4 separate regions of the Homo sapiens genome follow, and all the other regions are linked to region 1. The links come from fine-mapping of genetic effects on gene expression. A gene starts in region 1. Each other region holds a variant in brackets. All regions are shown on one strand. Distances are between the middles of the regions. Region 1 holds the start of NRN1 (neuritin 1). Region 2 overlaps F13A1 (coagulation factor XIII A chain). Region 3 has its middle 20 kb from the start of NRN1. Region 4 has its middle 25 kb from the start of NRN1.

Evidence for each region. PIP is the estimated chance that this variant, and not a neighbour inherited with it, causes the effect. A credible set is the group of variants that fine-mapping cannot tell apart.
Region 2: its variant is the best candidate, but not a certain one, in a credible set for the expression of NRN1 in whole blood (INTERVAL, PIP 0.60).
Region 3: its variant is the best candidate, but not a certain one, in a credible set for the expression of NRN1 in lung (TOPMed, PIP 0.74).
Region 4: its variant is the best candidate, but not a certain one, in a credible set for the expression of NRN1 in monocytes (TOPMed, PIP 0.63).

What each region holds. Positions count from the first base shown.
Region 1 is chr6:6,003,814-6,011,956 of GRCh38, forward strand. NRN1 (neuritin 1) reads right to left here and starts at 3,112. Exons shown (of 3, transcript NM_016588.3): 1 at 2,882-3,112. The coding sequence starts at 2,936. RefSeq lists an enhancer at 1-576 and a silencer at 5,043-5,162.
Region 2 is chr6:6,304,183-6,312,182 of GRCh38, forward strand. It overlaps F13A1 (coagulation factor XIII A chain), which reads right to left. Exons shown (of 15, transcript NM_000129.4): 3 at 1,169-1,357. The region is part of intron 1 of LOC124901253 (a long non-coding RNA gene); the gene reads left to right. Among named protein-coding and RNA genes, the nearest start is that of F13A1, 12 kb to the right of the region's middle. The variant C/G (reference allele first, on the strand shown) is at 3,532.
Region 3 is chr6:6,023,230-6,031,372 of GRCh38, forward strand. No RefSeq gene overlaps it. Among named protein-coding and RNA genes, the nearest start is that of NRN1, 20 kb to the left of the region's middle. The variant C/T (reference allele first, on the strand shown) is at 4,353.
Region 4 is chr6:5,978,132-5,986,274 of GRCh38, forward strand. No RefSeq gene overlaps it. Among named protein-coding and RNA genes, the nearest start is that of NRN1, 25 kb to the right of the region's middle. The variant C/T (reference allele first, on the strand shown) is at 3,793.

The DNA of each region.
Region 1 (8,143 bases):
AGAGAAGCACAGCGTTAGGGCGGGGAAGAAAGGGTGAATCTCAGAATCGAAATCCGCACTGGCGCCCACGACCCTGGGCGCCGGCCTGGTCCTCGGCAGCTTTCTGGCGGCTGCGCTTGTGTGTGAATGTGTCCCGGGAGGACCGGACACCTCAATCCCCCGGCCCCCAACGCGGGCGCCTGTCCGCGAGCGCCGGGCCAGACGCCGAAGAGGAAGGTGACCGAACCCGTAGCAGCTTCCGAGAGCGTACCCGTTTGCAAATTGCTGCAGGAAGAGCGAGGCGGGCCTTGCGCTTTTTAATCCGGAACGGGAAGCACTGGGGAAGGGACCGAGGTTAACTTCGACCTCCGCTGGGGCAGATACGTAAACCTTCTCAAACCTCCGAGTTCACCTTACAGCGAACATTAAATACCCTTGCGACTACAATACTAACAAATCGAACACTGACGTAAAATCTTAAGAATAAACGAATCTTTGTTCTGATAGAGCTCGTTCAAAATGGAAATACACTCCACACATCTTCCTCTATAACGCATGTCACAAATACAGCTTTGCAGAGAAGAAACGAAATAAAATAAAGTCCAATCTCCCCGTCCACGTCTCTCCCCACCCCTTGCCTACACCCCCAAAACTCAGTGGCGAAAGAAGCCCCTAAAATGCATTGACATTTTTTAAGGGGAATTGGGGCTCGCCGGGGGCGGGAGCGCTCTTGTCACGTTATCTTCCCAGGCGCTGCTGGAGAAGACCCTGCACACCGCGCATGTGTGAGTGTGTGCTGTGTAAAATAAGTCGTGAACATTTCTGTCTTTTAAAACTGTGACTCCTTGGACTCTAGCCTTCTCTGGGAGGCCGGGAGGCTGCGCGCGGGACGGATTTTGCAGGCGCACGCGTCCCAGCAGGTCGCAGCCCGTGGGTCCCTCGCTGTCCTTCCTGAACCCCGCTTAGGCGAGACTCTAGCGGGTGACCCTGGCTCCTTCCCTGTCCTCTCTGCCGTCCCCTTCTTGTGCGGTTTCCATCCGTTCATTCATTCGTTCGACCTCTCATTCATTCCGAACTTCCTCCTGCTGCGTCTTCTTTCGTGTTCACCACACTCTTCTACCTCCCCGCCCCTCCCAACCCCCACTTTTCTTGCCAAATGTCAATGATTTGGGACAGCTCCCAGCCGTGAATTAATAAAGACCGAGGTTCTGTTGCAGGAAAGGGCAGACATTAGGGAACAAATACGTTCAATTTCAATTCCACAGTCAACAAATAGTCATTTTTGGACCGAGGTTAATGTGTTCAAAACGCGTCCCTCAGGCACGACCACCGTCTTTTTTTTCCCTCCAAACCTCTCAAAGTAAGGTTATTTCCTACCGGGAAAACAGAGTCCCAAATCTTGTCCGATTAAAATTTCTATCTCAAAAACAACTCTCTCTCCTGCTCTCTAAAAATTCAAAGGTTTATTGCAAAATGCCACATTCACTTATTTCCAACATTTAAGGAATTTGCTGCCATTAGAAATATTATTTACAGCAGCTCTTTTCACTAATGTCAAAGATTCAAAACAACCAGATTTAAAGCATTGTCATTTTTTGGAACTAAAGGAAAACACCAATATCCTGCACTCACACACTCTAAAATCTTTATAATGTTTCTGCATTATAAAATCTCAAAATCATGTCAGTTGCATAAAACCCCACTGCAAAGAATCCATTTTAAGGTCTAGAGAACTCCAAACCTTGTTTCCTTCACATTTCTTATGGAAAAAACATATTATGCATTCTCCTTTCTTGCCCCAAACCAATTACCTAAAGCACCCCCTCCCCCAATACTGCAAGGATTTGTCTGCAAAGAATGCCACAGCCTGAACTGATAGGAGGTAACAATTCCGTTTCAGGAGTTTCTTTTTTCCCCCGTGTTGTCCATTCTATTAATAACCTGCTTCACTTTCACTTTTAGGCCACGTTAATTAATGTTCTGACCCAGTGTCGGAGAAGGGGGTTTTCTAGTGCCCTCTTCTATATCTTTTCTTCATTCTGGATGGTAAAAATGTGAACTTTAAAAAGACCCCTGACAGCGTAACTACAACTCAACATTCCTTAACATAAAATGGGGACTAAATAATTCCTTCCATAACCAATCCCAAACAAACAAAAATAACAAACACCCGACATGACATATTCCAAACACTTCTTAACCCTTTCCTATATATAAAATGCAGACACCAATGTGTAAAGTAGCAGGCAAATGCATCTAGAAAAGTATATCTACGTAAATTTGGCTGAATTCATCCTCTTCAATGGTAAGCATGTTAAAATATGTGGTCTGAAGTTCCCTATCACTCTCGATTTGCCCACCAGCCGGGTCTGCGGTGCCCGTGCAAACGCTGCAGCTAGGATATAGGGGGGAGGAGGGGCGGGAGAATGACAAAGTTCTAAATGCAGCAGTCTGAGCCCTGGAATATCTTTGCTTTCAGCACATAAACTTTCCAGTCCTGGCTGCCTAGCCATTTTATTCCTGCATTCACATTTCGACTCTTCAAAATCATATCTTGCAGTATCGCAGGGGCCAGTACATTGCCCCAGAGCGCACCAAACCTGGTATAAACCCAGAAAGGGAAACAAAAATGGATGTGTGCTCAGGAAAAAGGGGGAAAAAAACCGTGTCCAGAAAATGTCCGGCCGCACACATTTCCTGGCGAACATTTGGAATCTATAGCTTTAGGAAAAACCGATCTGGGACGCGCTAGTCCCCAGGAACTGATGCCCCCACCCTCGGGGGATTGCCGGCTTCTCCGCACCCTGGGGCGGCCGCGGACCCGCTAGTCCCCCTCCGCGCCTCGGGCCGGGGCAGGCTGCCTCCCGCCTCCAGCCTCCAGCCGGGCTGAGCGGCCACTTACCTATTTGCACCGCGAGGATCAGTGAAATATATCTGCCGTTCAACTTAAGTCCCATCCTACGTTTAGTCAAACCATTTGCGACCGCAGACCTTTAAATAGTTAGTTTAGAGAACGCGGGGGAAAGCCAAAAAATAGGCATTGCCAACAAGTTCCGGGAGCGACAGAGACTTTATGCACTGGGAAGGCAGAGGGAGGAGAGAAAGAGAGGGAGCGAGGAAGAGACAGAAAGAGAGAGAGAGAGAGAAAGAGAGAGAGAGAGAGAGGCTGAGGGGGGGGGGAGAGCTGGGAATGGTTCACTCCATTAGAAGGGGGCGGAGGAAGTACAGCCTCACGCCCACGAGCAGGCCTGACGTGGGGGATGACACGGAATGATTTTTTTTTTAATATAGACACCTTGGTAGAGAATCGCCATTTATAGTCATCAGAAGCTGGAATTAATCAGATATCTCCAATTAATGTGCGATCTGAACGAAATTTTGCCTCCCGGGGGTGAGCACTTTCCTATTCTAGCGGTCACCCCTGCCTCTTCCTCGTTCCGGGGGCCCCCCAGCCCCGCCGCCTCCCTGCGCAGAACAGGGGCTCCCCCTCCCTTCCCCGCCAGGAGCTGGGGAGTCCTGGCGCGCCCACTCGATTGTTTCAACCTGCTCCCCCTCCTCCATCAGCACCACAGAGAATCCAGCCCGCTCTCTACGATGCAGGGGGGTTTAAAGGAGCGGGAGAGGGAAAAACAGCTAAGCTAGCTCGATTAATTCGAAAGCGCTCCTCGGCCGCCCGCCCCCTGCGCTTGCCTACCCTCTTTTTCTCCAACCCAGCAGCTGAGCTCTGGGCGCAGCCTGGAGCGCGTGAGCACGCAGCCCGGCCCCCCGCACGAGCACACACACACACACACACACACACACACACAAACGCGCGCGCGCACGCCCGCCAGCCGCGCCGAGCGCCCCCATGCCCGCCCGCACACAAGGCACGCGAGCGCGCGCACACGCCCAGGCCCCGGGGGTTTGGTTTGCACACGTGGGGCCCCAGAAATAAACACCGAATGTCCTCTGAATTTTACCCACCTGCGATGCCCCAGCGGGCCAAAGGCCGCTTCAAGGGACACAGCGACACCTGTTTTAGGGGGCGAGTAGGGCACCGGGGAAGGAGCCTCTGATAAGACAGTTTTCGGATACTAGTGATTTACCAACCAACTCTCAGCGCTTTAGGAAATTTCCAAGGCAAGCGCTGGTGTGCGGACTTCTTTCTAATCTTGATGCGCCTCTTGGGCTTATTTGTTGGGCTACACACACACGTACCCACACGCACACACGTACATCACGTACGCACACGCACACCCGGACCCACACACACCTGCACTGTCTTTTGATGCTCAGGCACAGACCCTGTGTAGGTGTAGCCTACCCTGCAACAAAATACTTCTGCAGCTGGCTTTGTGCTAGGTGCAAGCTGCTATCGACGACAGCTTGAGTCAAAACCGAAAAACTAACAGGGCTATTTCCTTTCTAAACGCCTTTAAGCTCTGGTTTTCTTCCTTTCTTCTGCACCAAACAGAAAAAAAAAAAGTCTAAATTGTAGCGTCTTTAATAAAATGCTAAAGAAGGCATTGGCCAGCTTTAATCCTTAAGCCTGTGGAGAGAAAAAAATGAAAACGACCCCCCAAATTTTGCCAAACTACACTAGAGGACGTCAAGCTGTCAAACTGTAGAAATGCACACGGATTAAGGAGAAGCGTTGAATTTGCTTCTACAGGCAGCTTGCCCTCTAGGGCCAATCTTGCCGTCCCCATACTCAGATATTTGGAGATGCATAGACAAAGGGGGAGAAAGGTGCAAAATAACGGGGGTAGGACAGGCTGTGGAGGGTAGGGGGCCGAGGGGAAGCTGCGGGGGTCCTACTGCAGCACTTGGTGACGTGAGGTGTCTGCAATGTGCGGCCCCTAACTCACGTCCCGCGGGAGCCTCAGACTCCCATGCAGCCTTCCTGGCCCTGGGGGCGGAGTCATGTCTCCCCGCCCCTGGTTATGTCACCGGCCTGCGGGCGGGGCGGTTGGGGGCTCGCCTTCCGGTGTCCAGGGGCACGGTGGCGGCCCCGGGTGTTTCCTTTCCCCGAGCTCGGAGGCTCCGGGAAGAACCGAAAACGTGGGCGGACAAGGGGTGGGGCGGGGGCTGGTGGCGAGAGGGGGGCGTTTCTCGGACCCTCCCCCGACGTCTTCCAATGGCAGGGCGGGAGGCTTTCCGAGGGGCGGGGCCTCAGGGGGGTTGCCACGCGGCCCGGCCCACGGCTCCGCCCCTCGCTCGGGGTTCCGCGTGGGGCCGGCCCAGCTTTCCCGGACCAGGCCACCAGCTGCGGGCCCCCAACCTCGCTCAGACTCGTGCAGAGCCCAGGCTTGGGAGTGGCTTAAGGTTTTTTGCCCTCAACGTCCTTGCCTTCCTCCTGCTTATCCACCTGGGATCTTCACAGCATCATTTTCTGGGATCCTCTCCAACCCCTCCCCTGTAACTCTGAGCGTGGGGCGCTGGGGATGTGGAGTAGGCAGGGCTGAGGGCCTCAATGAAGCGGGTGAACCCACGCGCGTGCGCACAGCCGCCCGCGCCGCGCCCCGGGCCGATCCGGTTCTTGCCCTTGGGACGTGGCTGCGCCTCACCGCCCTACCCCGGGAGGGAACCCCCGCTGACTTTTTCCTCTCTTCATTTTCCTCCCCAGGCGTCCCAACCTCCCTCATAGGCCTGAGTCTTTTTAAAAGTGAAGAAGAGAGAGGCAAACAGAGTTGGTACTCTACATAAATGATTTTCTGGGTAGATAGATGCACATGACATTTTATTTTTTGAAAAATTCTCATCTTTTAAATTACAGGTCGTTCTGCAGTCCAGGCTCCATGCAGGGTTGATTCTTCGTAGTTCTTTAATTAAAGGATATTGCATTTCATGGTTGTCAATGCATGCTGTCTGGGAACGGTAGCATCCATGGTTGGAGGTGGCTTTGGAGAACGTTCCCTCTTTTATTAATGTGAAAAGCTCATCTCACATCATACTTGGGGTTGAAGATGCAGTGGGAAGAGCAGTGAACAGGGGCAGGGAAACCCAGCTCACAGGCTGACCCCCACACTTTGGAAAATGAAGGAGAGTGGACTATGAAGTAATTTCCAAAGCTGTTTTCACCTTTGAAATTTTGTGAACTGAGGATTTTCTAGAATTCTGTGAATGGGATTAGGAGTGGAAACGCACAATCCGAAGAATAAAATCCGTGCAAGAGTGCTTTTTATAAGCCAACTTCTTGCAAAGAACGTATTTCTTTTTGATAAGCAATTTTGTTTAAAGAAACAAATACAGTTCAGGAGAGGGAAAAAGTCACAGGTGCTGTTTGGGTCTGCATGTTGAATTGAGCCAAAGTAACTCCCAAAAGTAAGTCTGCATAATTAAGGTAATAAATATGCAAAATTCCTTATCCCTAGAACGGCCAGAAAGAGACTATGTCTAATTTTAAGCCTGGTGGGCACCAACTTCCTTTCTCGTTTCATGGCGCTACAGCCCTAGTCTGGATGAGCAGTATGCCAGTTGATTCCCCAGCTCCTGCTATGAATCCATCATAGGTCGGCTTTCCAGAAGCTGCCACCTCGACAAACAACCCTTTGAAATTATTTGCAAGAGCAGTTGTCAAGGCCACTAGGAAATCCCATCTTTGTATTCTAGGTCAGAAAAAATCGCTGCTCTATTAGAATAGATTGGTCTAGCAATACATCTCTCTCATAAATTTAGTCAGTCATTTAAATATCTTCAGCTAAAACCTTTAATAAAAATGTGAATTTATATTACATAACTTTTCATTAAAATGATAACTATACTGTATTTAAACAATCATATAGATTACGAGAGGAAGGAGATTTTTGTGGAGGTATATACATTGGTAGAGGCCCCAGTAAAAATCTACTTCGGGAGGCCTGGGTCTACCCTTGCATCTGTGGCTTGGTAAGGTGATTTTTTTCACTCTCTGATCTTGAGACTCTTTACAAAATTAGTTGAAACTTCAAGGCCTTGCTGGCCGGGCGCGGTGGCTCACACCTGTAATCCCAGCACTTTGGGAGGCCGAGGCAGGAGGATCACCTGAGGTAAGGAGTTCAAGACCAGACTGGTCAACATCTCTACAAAAAATACAAAAATTAGCCGGGCATGGTGGTAGGCGCCTGTAATCCCAGCTACTTGGGAGGCTGAGACGGGAGAATCACTTGAACCCTGGAGGCAGAGGTTGCAGTGAGCTGAGGTCATGCCATTGCACTCCAGCCTGAGGAACACAGCAATACTCTGTCTCAAAAAAAAAAAAAAAAAAAAAAATTTAAAAATTGAACTTGATTTGAATGCAGTAATTTGAAATCTAGGAGCAAATGCTAAATTTGAAATGTAGAAGTGTGATTAACTTCCATCTTAAAAATAAACACTTTATTTAAAACAAATCAACGTTTTTATCATGAAATATACACACGGAACAATGCACAAAACAAGCATGCACAATTCATTGACTTATGACAAAGGGAATGCCTATGTGGTCCCCACTCACACTGAAACAACTGGAAGAGGCATGACAACTAAATGCAACCTGTATTCCTGGATAAGATTCTAGACAAGAAAAGACAGAGATGTTGTTGGAACAGCCAGTAAAATTTCAGTGAAGTCTGTGAATTAGGCATTAGTTTTGCACCAATGTTGATTTCCTGATTGGGGAATTGTATGCTGATTATAGAAAAAATTGTCCTTGTTTGGAGCAACATATACTAAAGTTTTTAGAGTGACAAGACATCATACCTGTAGCTTGCTCTCAAAAGGTTCGGAAAAAGGAATATTGCTAATGGGGATAAATACAAAGCAACGGAATACATGTAGCAAAATGTTACTAACTGATGACGATCTAGCTAAAGGGGTATGCAGGTTCTTTGCATTGTTCCAGCATTTTTTCTTTAGGTTGAAAGTCATTTCAAAATAAATCATTTGAAAAAAAAATCAACTCCAGGTGGGTTAAGGACCTAAATATTCAAAGTAAAGCTTTGAAATATGAAGTGAAGCACTCAGGTGAATATTTTTAAACCTTTTAAAAAGCATGAATTGAAAAAGATTAATAAATTTAATCAGAATTAATGAAAAACTTTTGTCTGTAAAGTAATATGTTAGAGTAAATGAAAGAGCAAATTACAAACTCACAAAAATTAGTCTCAAGAGCTTAAGAACTTCCCAAACCAATTTTGTTTTAAAGAACACACACACACACACACAC
Region 2 (8,000 bases), 300 kb after region 1:
GTTGTTTTGATGTAAGCAATCTTTATTATCATTGAGGTGTTTTTTTTCTAAATTTTTCCCCTTAAACTCTTCCTAAAACTGGATGCTGAATTTTACCATGTACCTTTCTGTGACTGCTGATTTGATTGCCTAATTTTTTCCTTTAATTTGTGCATAGGATTATATGGGCAGATTTCCTATGTTGTGCCACCCCTGCTTCTCTGTGCATGTATTTCCTTGATAATCTTATAAATTCCTATAGAAATGTTTACCAAAATGTGTCAAAAGTTAATAGCTATAACTTAATAAAAGGGTTCCATGATCAAATTAATTTAAGAAGCACCAGACCAAAGTTAAATGGTCCTTCCCCAGACCTTTGAAGCTAATGTGCATCGTTAATCTTCAAGAGGAGGTTAAAGGCTGGGCATGGTGTCTCATGCCTGCAATCCCAGCACTTTGGGAAGCTGAGGTGGGTGGATAACTTGAGGTTAGGAGTGCGAAACCAGCCTGGACAACATGGTGAAACTCTGCCTCTACCAAAAATACATAAAATTAGCTGGGCGTAATGGTGTGCAACTGTGGTCCCAGCTACTCTGGAGGCTGAGGCACCAGAATCGCTTGAACCTAGGAGGAAGAGGTTGCAGTGAGCTGAGATCACACCACTGTTCCAGCCTGGGCAACAGAGCAAGACTCTGTCTCAAAAAAAAAAAAAAAAAAAAGGGTGATTAAAGTACAAAGTGTTTAGTGAAGTTTATTGGACTATATTTTTCACGGGCCATCCCATGGGACTAGATCAGAGCAGAATCAACTTTCGGAATGCATACTTGGATTGCATGCTAAGATTTACAAACATTTTCAGCACGAGACCAATTAAATCATGGAGATAAAAGTTAGAATCATAGGATGCCAAAACCATTTGTTTGAGGAAGAATAATTTAGTTAAGCAACACATTATACCAGTTTTACTTTTATTTATATGAGATTTTCTCCTTGGGTGGGCCCAAGTTATCAATATTTGGCACTATACAGACCAGTCTTAGAGCACAGGGTAATTCAGGGGCTGGATGTCATTCCAGCTCCTGCCACTGTTGACATATGACACTAGGAAATCACACAACTGTGCCTGTACCCACCTCTCTCTACAATGCAACCCATGGTGTCAAGACTGGAGCTTGCACATGGCACTCACCAATGACGTATTCCACCCTGAAGAGATCCCTTCTGGGGTCATATGGACGACTGAAGTCAATCTGCACATAGAAAGACTGCCCTCTGCGGACAATCAGCTTGTTGTTTTCATACTTGTCAGTGTGGTGGTCCACCTTGTTAGTGTCCCATCTCTCCTTGAACAGGTGAACGCTCGTGACATTAAGAAACTCTATGAACAAGAAAAACAAGGGTTGAAGAAAATAATCAACTAACTTTAGTTTAAACATAAACTCAAAAACAAGATTATTTTCCCTGAAGAAGGCAGGTAGCAAGGTCTGCTGAATGAAACTCTGTAGGAGGCAGGGGTAGGGGAACACAGTCTCGAGAGTCAGCCTCTTGTGACATTCTTGTTTTTGAAGAGAGCTTTTTAAAGCTTTTTCCACCTTTGATCTCGTTTCAGACCACAAGGCACTCACTGTGGGATAGATGGATGCCTGTCTGGGAGATCCAAATACAGAGAAGCTAGGGCCAGAGTTGAAGTCTTCAGGTTCTCAGTCTCACGCTAGTTTTCGTTATGTTAGAAGCTTCCCATCATGTCACTGCCTCACTCTGTGACTAACCAGGCAGAAGCAGGGAATAGCCACTTCAATTTTCTTATCTTTCCAAAGGAAGGAATCAAATCTGACAAAGCCTCAAGGGGACATTCGAAGGACAAAGTTAGCCATTAATCTAAAATTCTCCTTTTACCTCAAAAAGGGTCAAATGCCTCCTCCCTCTGTAATTCTAAAAGTAGATCTCATCCCTCAAATGCAGGAAAGAGAGGGAGCAGGTCTGGAGAAAGGACACTAAGATTTCCATGAGATAAGTGTGATTGTTTTCAGTGACACAGAAACTATCCTCAGCTTTCCTTAGCTACTAATGGGCCAGTTCAAAAGTCAAAACCTGGACTGTCTGATGCCAACATTCACAGGTTTTTCTTTTGATTTGTGGCATCAGGAGTGTAAACGTAAATCACATGTTTCTTAGTTGTCTAACTTTGTATGTGTGACTTAAATTCATTTCTTCATCATAGAATGGAGACACTAATATTCATTTCATAGCCTAACATGTTCCACTTCTTACAGGAATGTGACAGGAGACGGCATGAGATGACACGTATGCAAGCATTTAGCAAAGGGTCTGACACATGAAAGTCAGCTCTCTTCCTGCCCTTTTCCCCTTCCCCTCTATGAATGATGACTGAAAGTGGGGGTCATCCTAACTCCCTGTCCTCACTGTACTTTAGAAGATCTAGTCTAGAGACTGGTTTCTGCATGTGCATTTGGCATTGTAAAGAGTTATTGGGGAGAAGGTGGGGTGGGAGGGTAGAAGGGTCGGCAGGGGTGCCCTGGCCTCTTGCCCTCCCCCTCCCTGCCCCTGCCTGATGCATGATTTGCCTTCATGGCTATAAGCACCATGTGCGCAGAAAGCACAGTTGCTGAGCTTGTACCCATGCCGGGGCATCTCCTGCCATAGTCGAATGGCTTCCTTTACCTCCACACATAAATCCTGTGCAGGATGCCTGGTCCCTTTGGACCCCATTGTGTTCCATAGTCAAAACCAAGAAGTTGGGCTCTTTAAGATCCTCTTCGGTCCTAAAGTCCAGGAGTTCCTGAAACACTGCTGAGCAATTCAAAGTTCAGGCAATCCTGAGTTTGAATCTCAGGTGTCAAAATTACTGCGTTAAGGTACTTTACCTTTCAGAATCTGAATTTTCTTATTTTAAAATGAGGATACTAATACCCTGAGAAGGTCTATGAAGGCTCAATGAGATAACGGTGCAGTGGGTCTGGCACTATGCCTGGCACATAGTGGGTCCTAGGCTTACTGTGGCTCACTGCCCCTAAACTGTGACAGCCATTTCACAGGGCGTGGTGCTCCCCGGGTTACCCTGACTGCAGCATTACGGCAAGCAGAAAGTGCAGGATGCAGTTTTATTTTTACCTCTTCTCAGAACCCTGTTGTATACATGTTCCCCTGAAGGGCACTTTCTTTCCATTATGCTGTGAGCTAAAGATGTTTAATTCTCTAGACCTCTCTATTCCAAGCTGCCTTTCTCCTAAGTCCTCTGGTCTTATTAAGACCACAATCCCCGTGATAAACCAGCCCAAGAATGAGCTGGAGGAGCACAAATGTTCCTGTTGAAAAGGAGCTTAGCAATCAACTCCTCTGGTCCTCTTTCTTAGCACAGGGGCTTTAAAGTTTTTTTTTTAAAAATAGCTAAACACCAAAGTCCTTAGAAATGGGTTTCATCAGTTCTCCGTTTACCAGCACCAATGGAAGGAATATACTGATATTACATCCTTACAGAATCTCACAGAACAGCAATAGCATTTTCTCAGCCATCTGGTAGAACTACTATAC[C/G]CTGCATGAAACATTTTCATGAGAGCCCTACTACTTGGGCTTCTAGCTTCCATTTGAACAGGGAACTCATTTTTTCATAGGGCAAACAGTCCATTTTTAAACAACTCTAATTATTTGAAAACTTCTCTTAAGATAAACTGACATCTGCTTCCTTGTAATTTTTCTAACCATGGGTCCTCGTTCTGACTTCTAGATAAATATAGAATAAGTCCTCTTATTCATTTTAGCTGGCACTCTCTAGGTATTTAAAGACTGCTCATAGGATTTTTTTTTTTTCTGAGTAAAACATTCTTCATTTATTTAACTGTTTGCTTGTTTGAAACAGAGTCTTGCTCTGTTACCCAGACTGGAGTGCAGTGGCGCGATCTCGGCTCACTGCAACCTCTGCCTCCTGGGTTCAAGCAATCCTCCCCACCTCATCCTCCTGAGTAGCTGGGATTGCAGGCACTCACCACCATGCCCCGCTAATTTTTGTATTTTTAAAAAATTTAATAGAGACGGGGTTTCACCATGTTGGCCAGGCTGGTCTTGAACTCCTGACCTCAGGTGATCCGCCGGCTTGGCTTTCCAAAGTGCTAAGATTATAGGCGTGAGCCATCACATCCAGCCTATTTAACTGTTTTTAAGAAGTTATTTCTAGAACTTTTATCCAACGCTCTGTTTTGGAATATTTTCCACTTTGTCAATTTCTCTTTTGAAGTGTTATTTTCTGGAATTAAGTACATTACTCTAGTTGTGGTTTTTCTGTAAAAAAAAAAAAAAGAGACCATTACATCTTTTAAAATAAACAGTCTATTATTTCAAATCAAGATATTGTCAGTGTCTTGGATACTCTTAACTCACTGTTGATTTATATTATGCATCTGATAAAGCAAAACCCTTAAAACACATTCTTTTTTTTTTTTTTTTTTTTTTTTGAGGCAGAGTCCTGCTCTGTTGCTCAGGCTGGAGTTCAGTGGTGCAATTTCAGCTCACTGCAACTTCTGCCTCCCGGGTTCAAGCAATTCTCATGTCTCAGCCTCTCAAGTTGCTAAGACTACAGGCTCACACCACCATGCCTGGCTAATTTGTTTGTTTTTGTTTTTGTTTTAGTAGAGATGGGGTTTCACTATATTGGTCAGGCTGGTCTTGAACTCCTGACCTCAGGTAATCCCCCTGCCTCAGCCTCCCTTAAAACACATTCTAATGTTATTTCTAGCAACAATGGATCAAAATTCAGTTGAGGCCCCTACAAGTCACCCACTCATGTTGCTATTTGGCTATATTTATTTGTGCAATTGTTTTCTTCTGTTTAGTTCGATATTAAGACTTTGCATGGGTTAAATTTCTTCTTATTGAATTTGGCTCACTGTCCCATGCTCTTAAGATCATTTTAACCCCTAAGTATGCATTTAATATATTTAATATTCTCCCTAGCTTCTTGTCCTCTGGGAATGTTATAAGTGTGCTATTTTATGTTGCCACTCAAGACATGGGTATAAATGTTGATTAGGCAACTGTCTAATAACTACTAACTAAGTAAACGCACAGCAGTAGATGCTAAAATGTGGACAGATAATTATGACACAGTGTCAGACATCTCTGACAAAGGAAGTAAAGAGAACTGAGGGGAGTATCAGGGAGGAGCCCCTAACCCACATTTAGGGGGTAGAAAATAAGGAATTTCTCTGAAGGAAGTGAGACATAAGCAGTGAGCAAAAGAGGAGTCAGTTGTCCATGTGGAAAGGGGGGTGGAGAGGAATGCTTCAGGCGGAGAAAGAAGGATAGGTGAAGACTGAGGCAAGAGAGTGCATAGTTGCTTAAGAAATTGAAAGATGATGGTTGGCTGAAATGTACTAGTGGGAGCCACGGTGGAAGAGTAAGGAGGAGCCTGCTCATCACACGAGCCTTGGAGACCATGCGAAGGAGTTTGGGTTTTAATTGCATGGTGGATCCAGTGAAGAATCTGAAACAGCAAACTGACATGATTAGATTTATATATATATTGAAACTGCTTCTGGTGGCAGAGTGGAAAAGGGATTGGAAGGGGCAAAGCTGGAAGCTGAACCCAGTTAAGAAGCTGTTGCAGTGTTCTGGGTGAGGGGCCACGTGAGTTTAGCCTGCATGTAGGGGTTCAAGGCACTGCTCCTCTGGTACTCCTGGATTTGCCTTCTCTATTCCTACCCTCCCTCCCTGCATGATAATGTGTCCCTGAAATGAGTCCTGCCTTGGCTTCCCAAGCAGCTCTACCTACAAGGCAAAGTAAGGCTGGAGACGGAGAAATATTCGAGTATTTCTTTGGTATCATTGGTATGTCTCATCCATCCTAGTTCTCATTGCAAATGAAAACCTGGCTTTCCAGCTTTACCTCCTAGCCTAGTGTACCTGGTTAATGTCTAGTGAGACTGGTTAGAGTCAGTCCATCATGGCATAGTGCTAGTTTTATGGGATATTGACAGGTATTGGAAGAATTAGAGCTCCATGTTTAAACCAGTGTGGAAAATGCTGGCCTAACCAAAGCTGATCAGGATTCTTTACTGAAGCATTCATGTGAGACTTTAATATGCTGATGTATACCACAGATATCTCAGAGGGGCAATGGTTTCCAAATGTAAATGACTATGGAAACTTTTTTCTTTGGAGATCTGCATTTTTCAGAATATGTTTTTGGAAATGCTTCACTACTTACTTATTGTGCAGCCTCAGAAAAGTTATTTAATCTATCTGAGCCTCAGTTTTCTTATCTTTAATATGGGAATGAAGTACCTATCTTATAGAGTGGCTGACACCAAGTACATTCTTAATAAATGTTTATTATTATTGTTGTTGTTATTATTATTAAGAGAAGTAGAAGAGCATAGTAAGAGCATAGACTGTGGAGCTAGGCTGCCTGAACCCAAATCCCAACTCTCACGTACTGTCTTTGTGACCTTGGCAAGTTACATAAATGTCCTGTGCCTCAGTTTTCTCATCTGCAAAATGAAGTTGGTGTGAGGATTAAATGAGAAAATGCACCGAGTGCTCTATCCTAGGGCCTGGTACATGGTAAATGCTCAGAAATTGATGGCAATAATAATCATAATAGCACTGAGCATTTGGATTGGCCCTTAGGACCAATCATTAAGTAGTCAGGTATCTGAGAAGGCATGGTGTGAGGCTGGAATCTGAGCAATGGAAGTCACAAGGTAAAGAAGGTCCCTGGGAAGCTTTTTAGCAGTGGCCTTCCAGCCTTCCCAGGGAAGCATGCCATTTTATACTCCTTATCTTCTGAGCAGACAGGCTTGCTTTGAATTTCCACAGGTAAATAGAAAGCATTTCTCCTCTTGATTCGCAGGAAACATCTGTCTTTTTTTTTTTAAAAAAAAGTATCATTGTCTCTTTGTATTATCTTTATATAGGTGATTTTTTAGCCATGGGATTGTAATCCCCTTGAAGACTGGACCATGTCTTAATTATCTTGCTATAGTGCCTGGGGCAGTGTGCAGAAATGCCACAGCAAATATGCCTCCTTTCACCTGAACACCTTTTACGTGAAAATTTGGAGCGTAGAGTTGATCATTCATTTCAAAATAAATTATCTCATTTACTGTAGGATTAACCATAGGTGTCCTTTAAATGTCATTTACCATTTTATTCTCAAAATATGCTAGTTTCAGGACATATATATAGTTGAAGGTATGATGTGGGAATTTATAACATAAGACCTCCAGATCAGCAGTTTTGTTTCACATTGGAATAAAATACTGTCTTTCTAGCCTGCTTATATGTTGATAACAAAGGGTGAGAAAAAGGGTGCTGATTAATGCCTTTGAGAATAGAAAACCTAAGTCAAAAAAAAAAAGACAAAACCCCAGCTCATGGGTTTATAGTTTTTCCATAGTGTAAACAAACATACATATATATCATGAATATATATGTTTATATATAATATATAAAAACATATATTGTTTATATATTATATATTGTTCATATAAATTATATATATTACATATGTTTATATTATATAATGGATATAAACAAATAATATATTACAAATATATATTATTTATATATTATATATTACAAATATATATTTATATATTATATATTATTTATATCTTTATATATTATATATTGTTTATATATAATAGATATAAGCAAACTATATATTTGTTTATATATTTGTTTGTTTTCACTATGAAAAAACTATAAACCCATGAGTTTGGTTTTTAAAAATATATTGTTTACATATATAATATATAGTTTTTATATATTATTTATGTATATATTGTTTACATATTATAAACAATATATTTATATATGATATGTGTATATATATTATATATAAGCAAACTTTTTATATATATATAAAGTTACATATATATAAAGTTATACGTATAAAACAAAATTTATTTCATTGCCCATGAGTCAGCCACCCACAGGTCAACCAAGTATTTGGTTCTTATGACAGCTGATAGTATCAATTGTTTTAAATTATATCATCTATACTG
Region 3 (8,143 bases), 19 kb after region 1:
GGGTCTCACTCTGTCACTCAGGCTGCAGTGCAGTGGTGCAATCGCAGCTCACAAGTGACTCTCCTGCCTCAGCCTCCAGAGTAGCTGGGATTATGGGTGGGTGCTAGCATTCCTGGCTACTTAAATTTTTTTTTTTTTTTTTTTTTTTTTTTTTTTTTTAGAGATGATGTCTTGTTATGTCGCTCAGGCTGGTCTTGAACTTCTGGGCTCAAGTGATCCTCTCACTGTGGTCTCTCAAAGCTCTGGGATTACAAGCATGAGCCACCAAGCCCAGCCCAATCTTGTGACTTTTTAAAAAAATCTTTATTGTTTTGAGACAGGGTCTTACTCTGTCACCCAGGATTGAGTACAGTGGTGTGATCTTGACTCATTGCAATCTCTGCCTCCGGGGCTCAAGCGATCCTCCTGCCTCAGCTTCCTGAGTAGCTGGGACCACGGGCATGCACCACCACACCCTGCTAATTTTTCTATTTTTTGTAGAGATAGGGTTTCACCATGCTTTCCAGGCTGGTCTCGAACTACTGGGCTCAAGCGATCCTTCTGCCTCATCTTCCCAAAGTGCTGGGGTTACAGACATGAGCAACTGTGCCTGGCCACAGTCTTACTACTTTTAAAGTGTATATGACTTGAGACTTTTCCTACTCCATTAAATAAGGGGATGAGGTTTCTCAGATGACGTCACAGGACTCTTTGAGGCATAAAATTCTATTATTCTAATAAAGCAGAAATGCCATTGAGCAGCGAATAGTTGTCACAGAGTCATGTGCTTACTTCTGCAGGTGAGGGGAAGCCACCTCTGGACCCTCAGGCTTAGCAGCTGGAGCCAATACAGTGTTGCTGTTCAGCAGCAGGAGTGACTGACAGCTGTAGGAAGTGAGAGCTGGTTGCATATGGAGAAGGCACAATTTTCTCATTTGAAAAACCAGTGGGGGCTGGTGGTGGTGGGTAGCTAACTGATTTCCGGGGTCTCTCTAGCACTACAGTTCCATGATTCTGAGAGTGCAGAAGGAGTAGTAAGTATCAGGCCAGCAATCTGGGACTATTTAGTTTTGCCCACACATCTCAAAAACCAAAAGGAGTGTGAAGTATTAAAGCACAATTCATGGAATGAAAACGGCTGTTACTGAGCAGGACTGGTGCTGTCCAGGCATACAGAGGTGAACAAAATGAGCATGGTTTGTGACCTCGTGCTTCTTATGGTCTGGTAGGAGAGAAGTATTTGACACAGGTAAACAAACCAGTGAGTAATACAAACTGTAACAGGCGCTCATGCCTTCTCAAAGTATGAGAAAGAAGTACTAACGGGAGGAACCTACTTTAGATTGGGTGGTTGTATCAGTTTCATAAGGCTTGCCATAACAAAGCACCGCTAACTGGGTGGCTCAAACAACAAAGATTTATTCTCTCACTGTTCTGGAGGCTGAAAGTCTAAGATCAAGGTGTCAGTAGGGTCCTTTCCTTCTGAGGGCTGTGAGGAGCAATCTGTCCCAGGTCTCTTTCTGGCTTCTGGTAACTCTTGGCAGTCTTTGATGTTCCTTGGCCTGTAGCGGCATCACCCTCATCTTTGCCTTCATGTTCGCATGGTATTCCTCCTGTGTGTGTGTCTGTCTGTGTCTGTCTGTGTGTCCACATTTCCACTTTTTTGTCACGTTGGAATAGGTCCCACCTTAATGGCCTCATCTGCAAAGACCCTATTTCCAAATAATATCACATTCACAGGTACCGGGGTTAGAACTTCGACATATCATTTTGATGGACACAATTTACTCCAAATCTCAAATACTCAAACATCCATCCACTGCCACAGAAGCTCACAAAAGGAATATGCAGAGGAGTCACCAAGGAAAACCACTCTGCTTATCATAATTAGGCAGATGAGCAAACCCTATCCCCCCAGAGGAACCAGGTAGATACAGAGGTGAACTATGGGGATCATAGATGTTTTCTCCAAGGAGAGATGATATTTACATTGAAACCTGAAGGAAAAAGGGGAAAAATGGGCAGAGAGCCAAGAGAAGGTCATTCCAGGAAAAGATAAAACCTGTAACAAACAGGGAGTTGTGGTGGGAAGGAGCTTGCACATGTGAGAGTCTGAAAGAGCCCAGCCAGTGAGGAGGACAGCAAAGGGGACACAGGGACAAGACCAGGTGGCACAGAAGCAGGGCCTCTTGCACCTCACCTTAGGAGTTTCAAGTTTATTCTAGGAGTGATGGGAAGCCATGGAAGAGTTTCAAAGGAGGCCAGTGTCACACGAGGGTAGACACAGGTCTGCATCGATGAATAGCTCTGGGGAGCATGGACTGGGTGGGTCACAGGGCATCCGTGCAGGAAGCTGTAGAGGTGGCAGGCGCATATTCCTTTTGTGAGCTTTTGTGGTAGTGGATGGGTCTTTGAGCATTTGAGATTTGGAATAAATGTCTTTCTCTCATCTAAGGATGGTGGTAACTGTGAAAATGGAAAGAAGTTGATGGATTTCTGAGACATTAGGAGGCTGGACCCACAGGACTGATTGGGATTGATATCAATATTTCTAACACAAAATTTGGTCCAGGTGCACCAAATGGAAGTTTTGGGGCTTGTGCGTGGCTTCACTCAGTTGATGAGTTTCATTCACAAGAATTCGTGTTTATATAAGAGCCTGAGTCCGATGCCTTTCACTAGGTGTTGATAAAAGACAGCCCGCAGTTCACCTTTGAGCTGAGACAGCTTTTGTTTATTCCGCATACTATTTAAATAACAGGGACTTGTTACATAAAGATGTGTACTCCTAGCTGCTCTTGTAAAGTCAGAAAAGCTGGCAGCAAGGGGACCTGCAATCTTGCTTGGCCCCAGTGAGCTGGAGGTGAGCAGCAGCTTCCCCCTTTAGACAATGTGCTCTCCAGTACCTCACAAGTGGAACTCTCCCTCTTTCTCTACACACAAGCATTTCCCTTATTTATCTTATTGTATCTACCTGATTCCTCTGGGGGGATTGGGTTTGCTCATTTGCCTAATTATGATAAGCAGAGTGGTTTTCCTTGGTGACTCCTCCGCATATTCTTTTTGTGAGCTTGTGTGGCAGGGGATGGGTGTTTGAGGATTTGAGATTTGGAATGGATGTCTTTCTCTCCAGAGACTTTATAAACTTGAATGAGAAGGGGTATGATAAATCCCAAAGGTGGACTGTGTGATTTCCATGAAAGGGTTCAAGTTTTGAATGCAATTGGTCTCTTATTTCCCTTTAGTCCTCCCCAGAACTACCTGTAGTAAGTGTTGGCAGCCTTTCCGATAACCGAGGAAAGTATTATATACATATTATATTCTGTTTAAGAAAGGAGAAAAATGTATATTTTGGGGGGATCCTCACAAACATGATGAAATTCTAAAACATAAAGCTTGTATTCAACTCTAGTGTTTAGGGAATTTTAATCTTTGTAGGAAACTAGGCATTTCCTAGTATTGTTGAAAAAAATGAGAAATACTAGGAAAGCAAGTATTTCCTTGTATTGTTGGAAAGGTGGAGCATTTCAGTAATTGTAAGTGCATAAGTAAATTGATTTGGATATATTCCCCATAAACTGATCTCTAAATTATGAAACCACAAGGAACTGTAAATTGCAGAAAACTTTAGCTATGGGAACAAATGTCTTAGCAAAGGCTACCCAAAGTCTAATGTTTATTTCTTTAGATAAGTAACTTAGCTAAAGTGAAATTCTTACATAGTCTTTTAGAAGCATACTGGCTGGCATGTATAAATGAGGCTTTATTCACAGGCAAGCAGCTAAAAGGAAATTCTTGTTTCTGTTCGTGGAGAAGTAACTACCATTGCTAGGATGATCACAGGAAGGAAATGGCTATTTCCACTTACATACCCTCTAAACAACAATTAAATATTAATTAGCAGAAAAGTAAAAGGACAGATGACTGCTTTGACTCCCAGATCTTTATTGAGCTTTAACTCCCTGCACCCTTTGGCCTAATTGTTTGGCGTTAAACCACAAAACATGATAAAATGTACCAAAAGCCTGTGGCCGATAGTTACTAGTTATAATCTGCCTTGAACTGAGCCTAACCTTAAGGTGCCATTTGTAATCCTCTTCAGTGGTGGTAACAATGACATTTTGATGGAAAAGTAGTAGTTTCATTAATGTGTATATTTCATTTTCCTTTAAAGCGAACTCCTCAATAATATTGGTGTTGGGAAGTAGGATCTGTCTTATTGAGTGCCTTAGGAAACTCAAGGAATAAAATGGAGAGAAGGTGAGGGTGATATGATTTGACCAGTAGTTTACTCAAATTTCTGCCATTCTATGAAATACAGTGAATTGTTGCCAATGCCCTTTCAGCCTGACCACACGGAAACATCTTTTCTT[C/T]CTTCCTTCCTTCCTTCTTTTAATATAATGCCAAAGTTATGTCATATTAAATAAATATATGCAGAGGTAAATAAACAAATATCAGCTATCAGGAAAACTGGTTGCATCCCAGAAATACGTCTTAAGCAATAGGTCGTAAACAATGTTATAACAAAGCTGACCAATCAACAGAGGTTCCATCTCAGATTCGGCAGAACCAGAGAACATTCTTGGCCTCAGTGGCAAGTTTCATGCGCGTCCATGTGAAGAGACCACCAAACAGACTTTGTGTGAGCAATAAAGCTTTTAATCACCTGGGTGCAGGTGGGCTGAGTCCGAAAAGAGTCAGCGAAGGGAGATGGGGTGGGGCCGTTTTATAGGATTTGGGAAGGTAATGGAAAATTACAGTCAAAGGGGGTTGTTCTCTGGTGGGCAGGGGTGGGGGTCACAAGGTGCTCAGTGGGGGAGCTTCTGAGCCAGGAGAAGGAAATTCACAGGGTTAATCACTCAGTTAAGGTGGGGCAGGAACAAATCACAATGGTGGAATGTCATCAGTTAAGGTGGGGCAGGTCCTTTTCACTTCTTTTGTGATTCTTCAGTTACTTCAGGCCATCTGGGCGTATACGTGCAAGTCACAGGGGATGCGATGGCTTGGCTTGGGCTCAGAGGCCTGACATTCCTGCCTTCTTATATTAATAAGAAAAATAAAACAAAATAGTGTTGAAGTGTTGGGGCGGCGAAAATTTTTGGGGGGTGGTATGGAGAGAGAATGGGCGATGTTTCTCAGGGCTGCTTCAAGCGGGATTAGGGGCGGTGTGGGAACCTAGAGTGGGAGAGATTAAGCTGAAGGAAGATCTTGTGGTAAGGGGTGATATTGTGGGGATGTTAGAAGAAACATTTGTCATATAGAATGATTGGTGATGGCCTGGATACGGTTTTGGATGAATTGAGAAACTAAATGGAATAACAGAAGGAGAAAAACAGGTATAAAAGGTCTAAGAATTGGGAGGACCTAGGACATCTGATTAGAGAGTGCCTAAGGAGATTCAGCGTAGTCCTGCCAGCAAAGATTATTTATTTACTTCAAGAGTTTAGAGTGGCAGTTTGGGGATAGCACCAGGAGATATCAGCTGTGATGGCTTGGAGAAACAGTGTAAACCAGCAGTGTAAACAAGAGCAGGGCATGTATGAGTAGTTGAGAACGGTGAATAGGAGTATGACTAGACAAAAGATAGTAGGGACGACAAGTTTTTTGGGGGCACAGTCTAAGTTGGTCTGGTGTCGAATGAGACTGGGGCCTAATAAAAAAGAGTGTCTACACAGGAGTTTAAATGGGCTGTACCTTGCAACATTCTGAGGACAGGCCTGAATTCTGAGAAGCAAAGGGGTAATTGTCCAGTCCTTTTTAAGTTGGTGGCTGAGCTTGGTGAGGTGTGTTTTTAAAAGACCTTTAGTCCGTTCTACTTTTCTTGAAGACGGAGGACCGTAAGGGATATAAAAGTTTCACTGAATACTAAGAGCCTGAAAAACTGCTTGGCTGATTTGACTAATAAATGCTGGTCTGTTGTCAGACTGTATAGAGGTGGGAAGGCTAAACTGAGGAATTATGTCTGACAGAGGGGAAGAAATGACTGTGGTGGCCTTCTCAGACCCTGTAGGAAGGGCCTTTACTTATTCAGTGAAAGTGTCTATTTAGACTAAGAGGTATTTTAGTTTCCTGACTCGGGACATGTTGAGTAAAGCTAATTTGCCAGTCCTGGGTGGGGGCAAATCCTCGAGCTTGATGTGTAGGGAAGGGAGGGGGCCTGAATAATCCCTGAGGAGTAGTAGAATAGCAGATGGAACACTGAGAAGTTATTTCCTTGAGGATAGATTTCCACGATGGAAAGGAAATGAGAGGTTCTGAGAGGCGGGCTAGTGGCTTGTAGTATAGCATAGCCTGCCTTTGCTGGTGTGTGGCAATTAGGCCTGGTGGAACTGCCATCAATAAATCAAGCGTGATCAGGGTGAGGAACAGGAAAGAAGGAAATATGGGGAAATGGGGTGAATATCAGGTGGATCAGAGAGATACAGTCATGGGGGTCAGGTGTGGTATCAGGAATAATGTGGGAGGCCAGATTGAAGTCCAGGCCAGGAACAATGGTAATTGTGGGACTTAAAGAGTGAGGACAGCTGAAGGAGCCGGGGAGCAGAATGTATATGCGTCAGGTATGAGGAAGAAAATAGATTTTGGAAGTTATGAGAACTGTAGAGAGTGAGTTGAGCATAGTTTGTGATTTTGAGGGCCTCTAACAGTATTAAAGCAGCGACAGCCGCTGCACGCAGACATGAGGGCTAGGCTAAAACAGTAAGGTCAAGTTGTTTGGACAGAAAGGCTACACGGTGTGGTCCTGGCTCTTGTGTAAGAATTCTGACTGCGCTAACCATGCCTAGGAAGGAAAGGAGTTGTTTTCTAGAAGGTGCCGGGGTTTGAGAGATCAGTCGGACACGATTGGCAGGGAGAGCACGTGTGTTTTTATGAGAATTATGCTGAGATAAGTAACAGATGAGGAAGAAATTTGGGCTTGATTGAAGTAATGGGGGCTGTCTGTGAAGCTTTGCGGCAGTACAGTCTAGGTAATTTGCTGAGCATGATGGGTGTCAGGGTCAGTCCAAGTGAAAGCGAAGAGAGGCTGGGATTAAGGGTGCAAAGGAATAGTAAAGAAAGCACGTTTGAGATCTAGAACAGAATAATGGATTGTGGAGGGAGGTATTGAGGATAGGAGAGTATATGGGTTTGGCACCATGGGGTAGATAGGCAAAACAATTTGGTTGATAAGGCATAGATCCTGAACTAACTTGTAAGGCTTGTCTGGTTTTAGGACAGGTAAAATGGGGGAATTGTAAGGAGAGTTTATAGGCTTTAAAAGGCCATGCTGCGGCAGGCAAGTGATAACAGGCTTTAATCCTTTCAAAGCATGCTGTGGGATGGGATATTGGCATTGAGCGGGGTAAGGGTGATTAGGTTTTAATGAGATGGTAAGGGGTGTATGATTGGTCGCCAAGGAGGGAGTAGAGGTATCTTATACTTATGGGTTAAGGTGGGGGGATACAAGAGGAGGACGCAAAGGAGGCTTTGGATTGGGAAGAAGGGCGGCAATGAGATGCAGCTGTAATCCAGGAATAGTCAGGGAAGCAGATAATTTGGTTAAAATATCTCGGCCTAATAAGGGAACTGGGCAGGTGGAGATAACTAAAAAAGAGTGCATAAAAGAGTGTTGTCTAAGTTGGCACCAGAGTTGGGGAGTTTTAAGAGGTTTAGAAGCCTGGCTGTCAATACCCATAACAGTTATGGAGGCAAGGGAAACAGGCTCTTGAAAAGAAGGTAATGTGGAGTGGGTAGCCTCCATATTGATTAAGAAGAGGACGGACTTACTTTCCACTGTGAGAGTTACCTAAAGCTCGGCGTCCGTGATAGTCTACGGGGCTTCCAAGGCAATCAGGCAGCGTCAGTCTTCAGCTGCTAAGCCAAGAAGGAGTCAGTCAGAGAGCCTTGGGCCAGAGTTCCAGGGGTTCTGGGAGCGGCTGCCAGGTGAGTTGAACAGTCCGATTTCCAGTGGGGTCCCGCACAGATGGGACACAGCTTAGGAGGAATCCTGGGCTGTGGGCATTCCTTGGCCTGGTGGTCAGATTTCCGGCACTTGTAGTAAGCTCCTGGGGGAGGAGGTTCCCCAGGAACGCCTGGCCGCTGCAGTTCACGCGTTTGGAAGTTCTTGTGTGCTGGAGATGTGGCTGGGGTTTGTGTCACAGTGGAGGCAAGGAATTGCAACTTT
Region 4 (8,143 bases), 26 kb before region 1:
AGAGAGTAAACATATTTGGCCGGGCGTGGTGGCTTACGCCTGTAATCCCAGCACCCTGGGAGGCTGAGGCGGGCAGATCACGAGGTCAGGAGTTGGTCAGCCTGACCAACATGGTGAAATGCTGTCTCTGCTAAAAATACAAAAATTAGCCAGGCGTGATGGTGTGTGCCTGTAATCCCAGCTACTCAAGAGGCTGAGGCAGGAGAATCGCTTGAACCTGGAAGGCAGAGGTTGCAGTGAGCCACGATTGCGACACTGCACTCCAGCCTGGGCAACAGAGCAAGACTCCGTGTCAAAAAAAAAAAAAAAAAAGGAGACACATTTGTGGGTCCATTATTCTGCCTACCTCAAAGATATTCATTAATCGAGGTGGGGGGTGGTGGTGCTAGAGATTTTCTTTAGAACTTTGAGTGAGCTCCTCTGTGAATCAGAAAGATATTCTTGTAAAGTCTCTAGCCTTATGCTTGTGATATTTAAGAGCTTCAGTGATTGCCATTTCTTGGAGAATTCCTTTATATTTTAGCACACTCTCAAAGAACATTATTACCCTTCCCCACTGAGTTTTGCTCAGAGTCTCAATGTCATTATTTTATTCCTTGCGCTCCCTTTTTTTCTTAGAGTCATCAACTATAATGTAAGTTGCTTTTCCTTGTTGTATATCCTTTCTTCTGGATCTTTTGGAGAGGGTTCAGATTATATATTTTTCCTGTTTTTTCAGAGTGGGGGAAAAAGTCTCCAGGAGAGGAGAAGGAGTTTTCTCACTTGCCTGCTATTTCATTTCCCTAGGCTTTCAAATTTATACACACAGTCCATGTGTTCTGATTTTTCCACACAGACATTTTCTAACAGAGATGTTTGTGCAATTTCTTTGCATCTTCACTTCATGTTACGAATATAGCCAAATTCAAAAAATATACCCAGCCAGAATAAATGTTTGATCTTGTATCACTGGATTCTTGCATATAACTGGCCATTAAGCAACTAAAACAACTGGACTTCAGAACAACTGAATTAACAAATACATTGATAATCTGATCAATTTTTTGGTTGGATAAGATCCAAACATTTTAAGATCTGGCATTAAAGAAAGAAAAAGAATATATCACGCATTTTTCAATTTAGTTAATTAACAGCTCCTAAATTTAGTGTCCTATTTCTGGTTATGTGTTAAATTTACCCATGGTGTTGTCCTTTACATTTGAGAAAAATTTAATGAAGTCTTTCTATAGGGAAGTGTTAAAAGTATAATGCCAAGTGAAAAAGAGATTATAAAATAACACATACAATGCAATTTATTAATGTATGTTTCACAATATAATTTTTCTATAGTACACAAAATAAAAATATAAAACAGATATACATATATATACACATGAATGATATTAGATCTAGTTGACAAACAGTGCAAGCTTTCACCTTCCCTCCAATCCTGAATCTATTAAAATAAAAAGCTATATTTTAGAAAGAATACATTTACAGCATTCTAGGAAAACATGAAATGAAACCACCATTAAAAGACCAGGAAATTCGAGACATTCCTGGAAAGAAGATAGAAATGAATGAGAGGAGACTGATAACAGGCGTGAACAGAAAACTACATCCCGACACACCCGTGAGTGAAAGGCCAATTGGGGAAATTCCAAACTTAGAGAGAACAAATGGAACAAGAAGAGAAGTAGCCATGGAGCAATGCTTCTAGTGAGTCATAAACAGCTGCATCAGGTCAGAGAGGACAGCCCAGAAACCATCTCTCTCCTGTCTCCTGGTTTATACACACAACACACGTGTTTGATCCCAGGTTAAAAGTGGAGAACTACACTCTGAAGCAAGCAAACTTCCTTCCCTTAAGGCGTCCTGGTGTAGGGGCCTAGAATAGAAAAGCAGAGCTTAAGATAACTCCAGACTGCTACAACAATCAGGGAGAGAAAAATGAAGACACAGCTCTCTCCAAGAAGGAAATACATGAAAGGGCTAAGGGGGGAGGATCATTTGAGGCAGGAAGTTCAAGACCAGCCTCGATGATATAGCAAAACCCTATCTCAAAAATGAAACAAAACAAAACAACAACAGGGTTTCACCACCAACCCATTGAACTATTGCCATGGTTTGCCACATAGTTGACTAATATCCATGTTGACATGAGAAGCGCGATGCCAATTTTTTGTCTCTTTTCATTGTAGGTAACTGGCTTTCTTCTCTCTGGAGATGTCATTCAGCAGGCTTTTTCAATCTGACAACTGGTGCTTTTCTTCAGCTTGGGAAATTTTATTTTATTTCTTCAATTACTTCCCCTATTTTCTCTGTTCTCTCCTTCTGGAGTTTCCATGAGTGAATCTTTTTCAATTTTCAATGTCTTTCAATTTTCAATGTCTTTCAACTTTCCTATCATATTTTTCTTTTAACTGATTTTTTTTTTTTGTCTTCCTTCTTGGATCCTTGCAAGGGTGAGCTCTTAATTTGGTCACTGTCATGGACTGGATGTTTGTGATCCCCCAAATGTGTATGTTGAAATCCTGACCCCTAAGGTGATGGTCTTAGGAGGTGGGTTCTTTGCAAGGTGATTAGGTCATGAGAGTGGAGCTCTCATGAAAATGATTAGTGCCCTTATAAAAGAGACCCCAAATATCTCTCTCACTTCTTCCCCTTCTGCCATGTGAGGACACAACAAGAACATTGTCTTAGAATTAGGAAAGTGAGCCTTCACCAGAACCTGACTATGCTGGCCACCCAGGCTGTGGCATGTTTGTCATAGCAGCCCGTACAGACTGAGACTGACACCTTTGTGAGCACATGCATCTCAATGCTGCCAGAACCTTCTTAGAAAATGTGTAGAATGTGTCTCAGAATTGTCCACCCAAGGAACAGAATAGGGGAATATTTACTCACCAGCTTTCCATCACTTTCAAATATAGGTAAGCATTTTAGATGTAACTCAGGGTGAAAAATCCATTTATGTGCTTTGCAAGTTGAAATTCCGTAGTCAGTTGATATATAAATATTTCTTATTATAAAATACTGTATGATTAATTATTCTTGTGGAAACTCTTAATTTTATGTACTAAAACAATTATTAAAGAGCTTTCCAATTAACCAAGCTGATGTATCTGGAGAGTGTAAGTATTTTTTAATGGATACTCGCTGCAAATATGCCCCCATCAGCTGTTCGAGATTAAAGGAGACTAAAGAGGCATGACAGCTACGTGCAATGCATGACACTATTTTGGATCCTGGCTCAGGGAGAAAAAGTTCTATGAGAGACATTATTGGGACACTTTGCAAAATTGGTTTCTCTCTTGTGTTGAGTCTCTTAACCTGAGATTGTTGGCTGTTTCTTTGCAGAGACCTGCAAGGAAACTATGATCCCTAATTAGAGACTCACGAATCATGCAAAGGTTTATCACAGAGAAAAAACTAGGGCTAAATTACTGCCCACAGGAGAGGAGTTTAGAACTACAGGATGATAGTAATGCTTGACACTAATAAATCACTCTGGAAAAGAAGTTTATAAAATCTGGCAGCTCTTAAAAATCAACATGCTATTTATAGAAAAGAATAGGAAAGAGAACTGTGCAACAAAGACTTTTTTTTGCCTCCTTTGAGCCATTTGAATCATCACACTCGCCATATTACTAACTTACACTACTTGTAGCATTCATCCTTTGATGGCAGAGGGCCAAAACATTCTTAGAAAATAGTTAGGAAGGGAGAGGAGTCATCACTTCCTTAGCTTAGGTTCAGAGTTCTGCTGAAAACCACTGTCTCTAGCACTCAATCTGTACTCTTCACCTGACT[C/T]CCGGGGAGAAAGTTCTACAGAGAGGAAGCTGGAGCGTAGAACAAGGCCCTTAAACTCACCATGCATTCTGAAATATCCTCTGTAGTAGCATGCATGCTTACTAATTTTTTCACAGTGGACATAGGAATATTAGTACTGTTTGCCTGTTCATTTATATATTAATTAACTCATTTATTCATTCACACGCCTTGATTCATGGTTTCAGAGATCAGTTGTTGAGTTTTCTGTATATATAAAAATCTGCGCTAGCTGCTATAGATATAGACACATACACGAGAGATGGCTTCTGCCTATAAGAAGAAACAGGCAGTAGCTAACTGTCTGAATTCATTCATTCAGCAAATGTTTATTGAGTGTCTACTCTAGATCAGGCAATATTCTAGGAGGTTGTATCCTAGTTGGAGCAGAAAGCTATTAATTAAGCAAATTTAAAAGGTTGTTCCCCTTTATGATTAGTGCTGTGAAGGAAATGAACAAAGTGATGTATGTACCTGCTATGTGTGAGCCATGTAATTACTGTTATTTGACCAAGTGAAGCTTAAAAGATACTCTCTAGTAGAGACATGTAGCGAGATATTAAAGTCAAGCTTGGCCGGGCTTAGTGGCTCATGCCTGTAATCCTAGCACTTTGGGAGGCCCAGGCGGGAGGATTGCTTGAGCACAAGAGTTTGAGACCAGCCTGGGCAACATAGCGAGAACTCATCTCTATAAAAATTTTAAAAATCAGTCAGGTGTGGTGGTGCATACCTGTAGTCCCAGCTACTCAGGAGGCTGAGGTGGGAGGATCACTTGAGCCTGGAAGTTCAAGGCTGCAATGAGCTGTGTTGTGCCACTGCATCCTAGCCTGGGTGACAGAGGGGAACCCTGTCAAAATAAATAAATGAATAAATACAGGAAATCTTCAAAACCTATTTAAGCCACTATGGTTGAGTTATTAAGCAAAATTACCAAATACATCATTGTTCTATGATATAGTTTCTCAACCTTGGCACTACTGACATTTTGGGACAGACAATTATTTGTGGCAAGGGCTGTCCTGTGCATTGTAGGATGCGCGGCAACATGCCTGGCCTCTACTCAGGGATGCCAGTGGCACCCCCTTCTCAGATGTAACAAGCAAAACTGTCTCCAGGCATTACGAAATGTCTCCTGTGGAACACAATTACCTCTGGTTAAGAAACACTGGTGTATGGGGAAAAATGTTCCGAATGCCAACTAGGGACCCTAGAAATATATATTCTGTCCCTCAATGTCCTCACCCAAGAGTCTCAGAGGGCTTCTTTTCCTCCTTGTTCTTATGTTTTCTGTCTAACCTTAGCCCTGCATCAGATACTTCATTTTCCTCCTCCCGTCAGCTTCCTGGGGGAGAAAGGGCAGGAAAAGCAGCTTCAGGGAAGCTGCTTTCCAACTGGAGCAAGTCAACCCCAAAGACAGGAGAAGTGGGGGACCTGAGTGGTGTTGCCATCACAGGCAAAGTTTGCCTCTTGATTCATTTTGCTAAGGATCCACACCCCCCCAGTCACACTCCACACAGAGCCCTGCGGCGACATTTACTCATGCAGTCATGGGTTCATGTGCCCCATCGCAGGCCATGAAGAACGTGGTTTGTATCAGCTTACTTTCTGCTCTTCTGGATGATTGAGGGCAGCCACATGGGATCCTCTGGAGGTGCCCAGCACTTGCTTCTTGGTCCTATATCGAGGCCTGCTTACTGTTAAGAGCAAAAGAGACCAAGATGTTGGCTGAGCACGGTGGCTCACACCAGCAATTCCAGCATTTTGGAAAGTTGAGGGGGGTGGATCACCTGAAGCTGGGAGTTTGAGACCAGCCTGATCAACATGGAGAAACCCCCTCTCTACTAAAAATACAAAATTAGCTGGGCATAGTGGCACATGCCTGTAATCCCAGCTGCTTGGGAGGCTGAGGCAGGAGAATCGCTTGAACCCAGGAGGCGGAGGTTGTGGTGAGCTGAGATCGAGCCACTGCACTCCAGCCTGGGCCACAGAGCAAGACTCCACCTTCAAAAGAAAGAGACCAAGATGTGAGCTGAGTGGTGAAGATAAAATCTGGATGTGGAACTGTAGTGATGCAAAGGCAGAGGGGAGCAGGGGAGAGGCTGGAGGTGACCACTCAAGACCTTTAGGAGACAGAAAACTGCACAGAAGACTGTCTGCCCAAGGCCTAGGGCCCAGCTTTGCCCAGGGAATCGAAACTTAGAGTATGAAGCAATGTTATAAAGCAATTTTTTTTTAGTTGTGCAAGTGTCAAATGCTGTAAATGAAACAAAATCAGGCAATGTGATAGTGCCTGTTTGCTGGGAGGATTTCCGGGAGAAGGTGGCTATCACTTTACAATGAAAGGTCAGAGAAGGTATCTCCGAAGAGGTGGCATTGAGGTTGAAACAAAATGACAGGAAGGAGCCTTCCACACAAAGACTCTGGGGAGAGGCAGAGGAAATAATGAGTTCAAAGGCATGAAGGCTAAATGAGCGTGGGGCATGCAAGGCAGAGAAACAGCAGGTAAACAGTGGGGTAAGAGAAAAAGGCAGGCCTTGGATCAAGTAGGGAGAGACACATTATAGAAAGAGCAAATGATCCTTACCCTGATGGGCTGTCTCGGCTCTTTGCAGTCCCTCTCAGTAGCAGACACCCACCTGTGCTTGATAGTTTTCACCCTGTTTCATAACATTGCACCTACTCAGAAACCACTGTCTCTTTGTATCTGTGATCACTTAGAGTCCATCAGCTTGGTGCTGACTTTCTTCTCTTCATGTAGACAGCTGTGTTATAAAAGACCCAAAGGGAGAGGGACAAAACCTAAAAAGGCTACTTTGGGGTATATATGAGCTTTGGAATTACCCATCTCCCTGCCAGGAGGTGAGGAGGGAAGAGTTCACAGTTGGCGTGTCCCTTGAGCAAGAGAAGATAACTCGCTCCTGCTGGTTCTGCAAGGTTTCAGCAGTGATGGTTGTTTTGTAGTAGCTCTGAACTTGCCAAGAAAAACACATTGTTTAAAACAAGCCATTCATTTTGAGAAAGGCTATTGTGTAATAATTTCTTTTTCTTCACCCCTTCATCCACAACCACGCAGAGACCATGGTCATCAAAATAATAGGTCTTTTTTATTTTTACTTAGGGGATCCCAATTTTTCTCCTGTGGCTATGAACAAGGGAAAATATAGCAAAGGGAATGCTGATTGGTTTATTATGCAAGTCTGTAGTTGGGATGACTATAAAACAATGAACATTATTTTCATAAACTACATGAAAACCAGTGTCTTATATTAAGCTTACATAATTACAGCTATGTCATTCTTTATGTTCCCATGTCAATGTTCTCTGCTTCAGATGCCCCTCCAAGAGGACAGGAATTGGACCCACTTTGGGTAGCCTTGTACAATGCAACCCAGCACCCAGCAACGTCCTGAAGAGGCTGCTGACTGCTCTGGTCGAAGTGGAGCAGGGCCCTTCCTCCCTCCACTGGAAAGGGTGGGCAAGAAGCATCAGTGCTTCTGGTATTTGACTCAGTGAGACCTAGATATTGCAGATCTGCCATCAAAAATATTTGTAAAGCCGTTTGCACCACTATTATCCTTCTGCTCCTTTTAAAACCTAACAGGCAGGCCCAACTTGGAAACTTCCAAGAATGAAACACCACCTTCAGAAAACGTGGTAATTGATAGAAGAGTCTGGTGCTACTGCATGATGCATTCCATACCCTCTGGGCTCCTCTCTCTAGTTCTTTAACCTAGTCTCTCTCAAGCTATGATGAGAAAGGCACTGATTATTTCAAAATGGTGCAAATCACCTGCTGTTTAAAAAACAAGATAAATCCCCCAAAAACGAAAAAAATGAAGTTGTCAAAGACACTGGAATGAAATTTCTGAAGAACCAATCTTTTCCCACTGTGTTTCTCCATCAAAAGGAAAAGCTAGGCAAGCTTGTTGAAATGATCAGCTCCATGTGTTCAGCCTGAGTATAGGGTAGCAGGAAACTGCACCCTAATTTTAGTGTTCTGCATGGACTCTCATTACTGCCCAAGCACATGGCTCTCACATGCATAAGTCCTTCTTGAGTACTGGTTGCTAACCCTCCTCCACACTTGGTTTGCAGAGGATATTTCCAGAGTTAGAAGGGTCTTCCAGAATTTCAGAAAAAGAGCACCAGATATTCAATAAACCATGGTTTTTCTAAAGGAATTAATGGGTTGTCTGTCAGTCAACATTTGGACAAGCTGAGTCTAAGGTTGGCCCTGTAGCTCAGGAGTTGGGTTTCTACAGTGCCTGTTCTCTAGTTCCTTTTTGTGTTGTTCATCTCTTCTAATAAACTTTGGGCATAGGTTCAGCAAGTG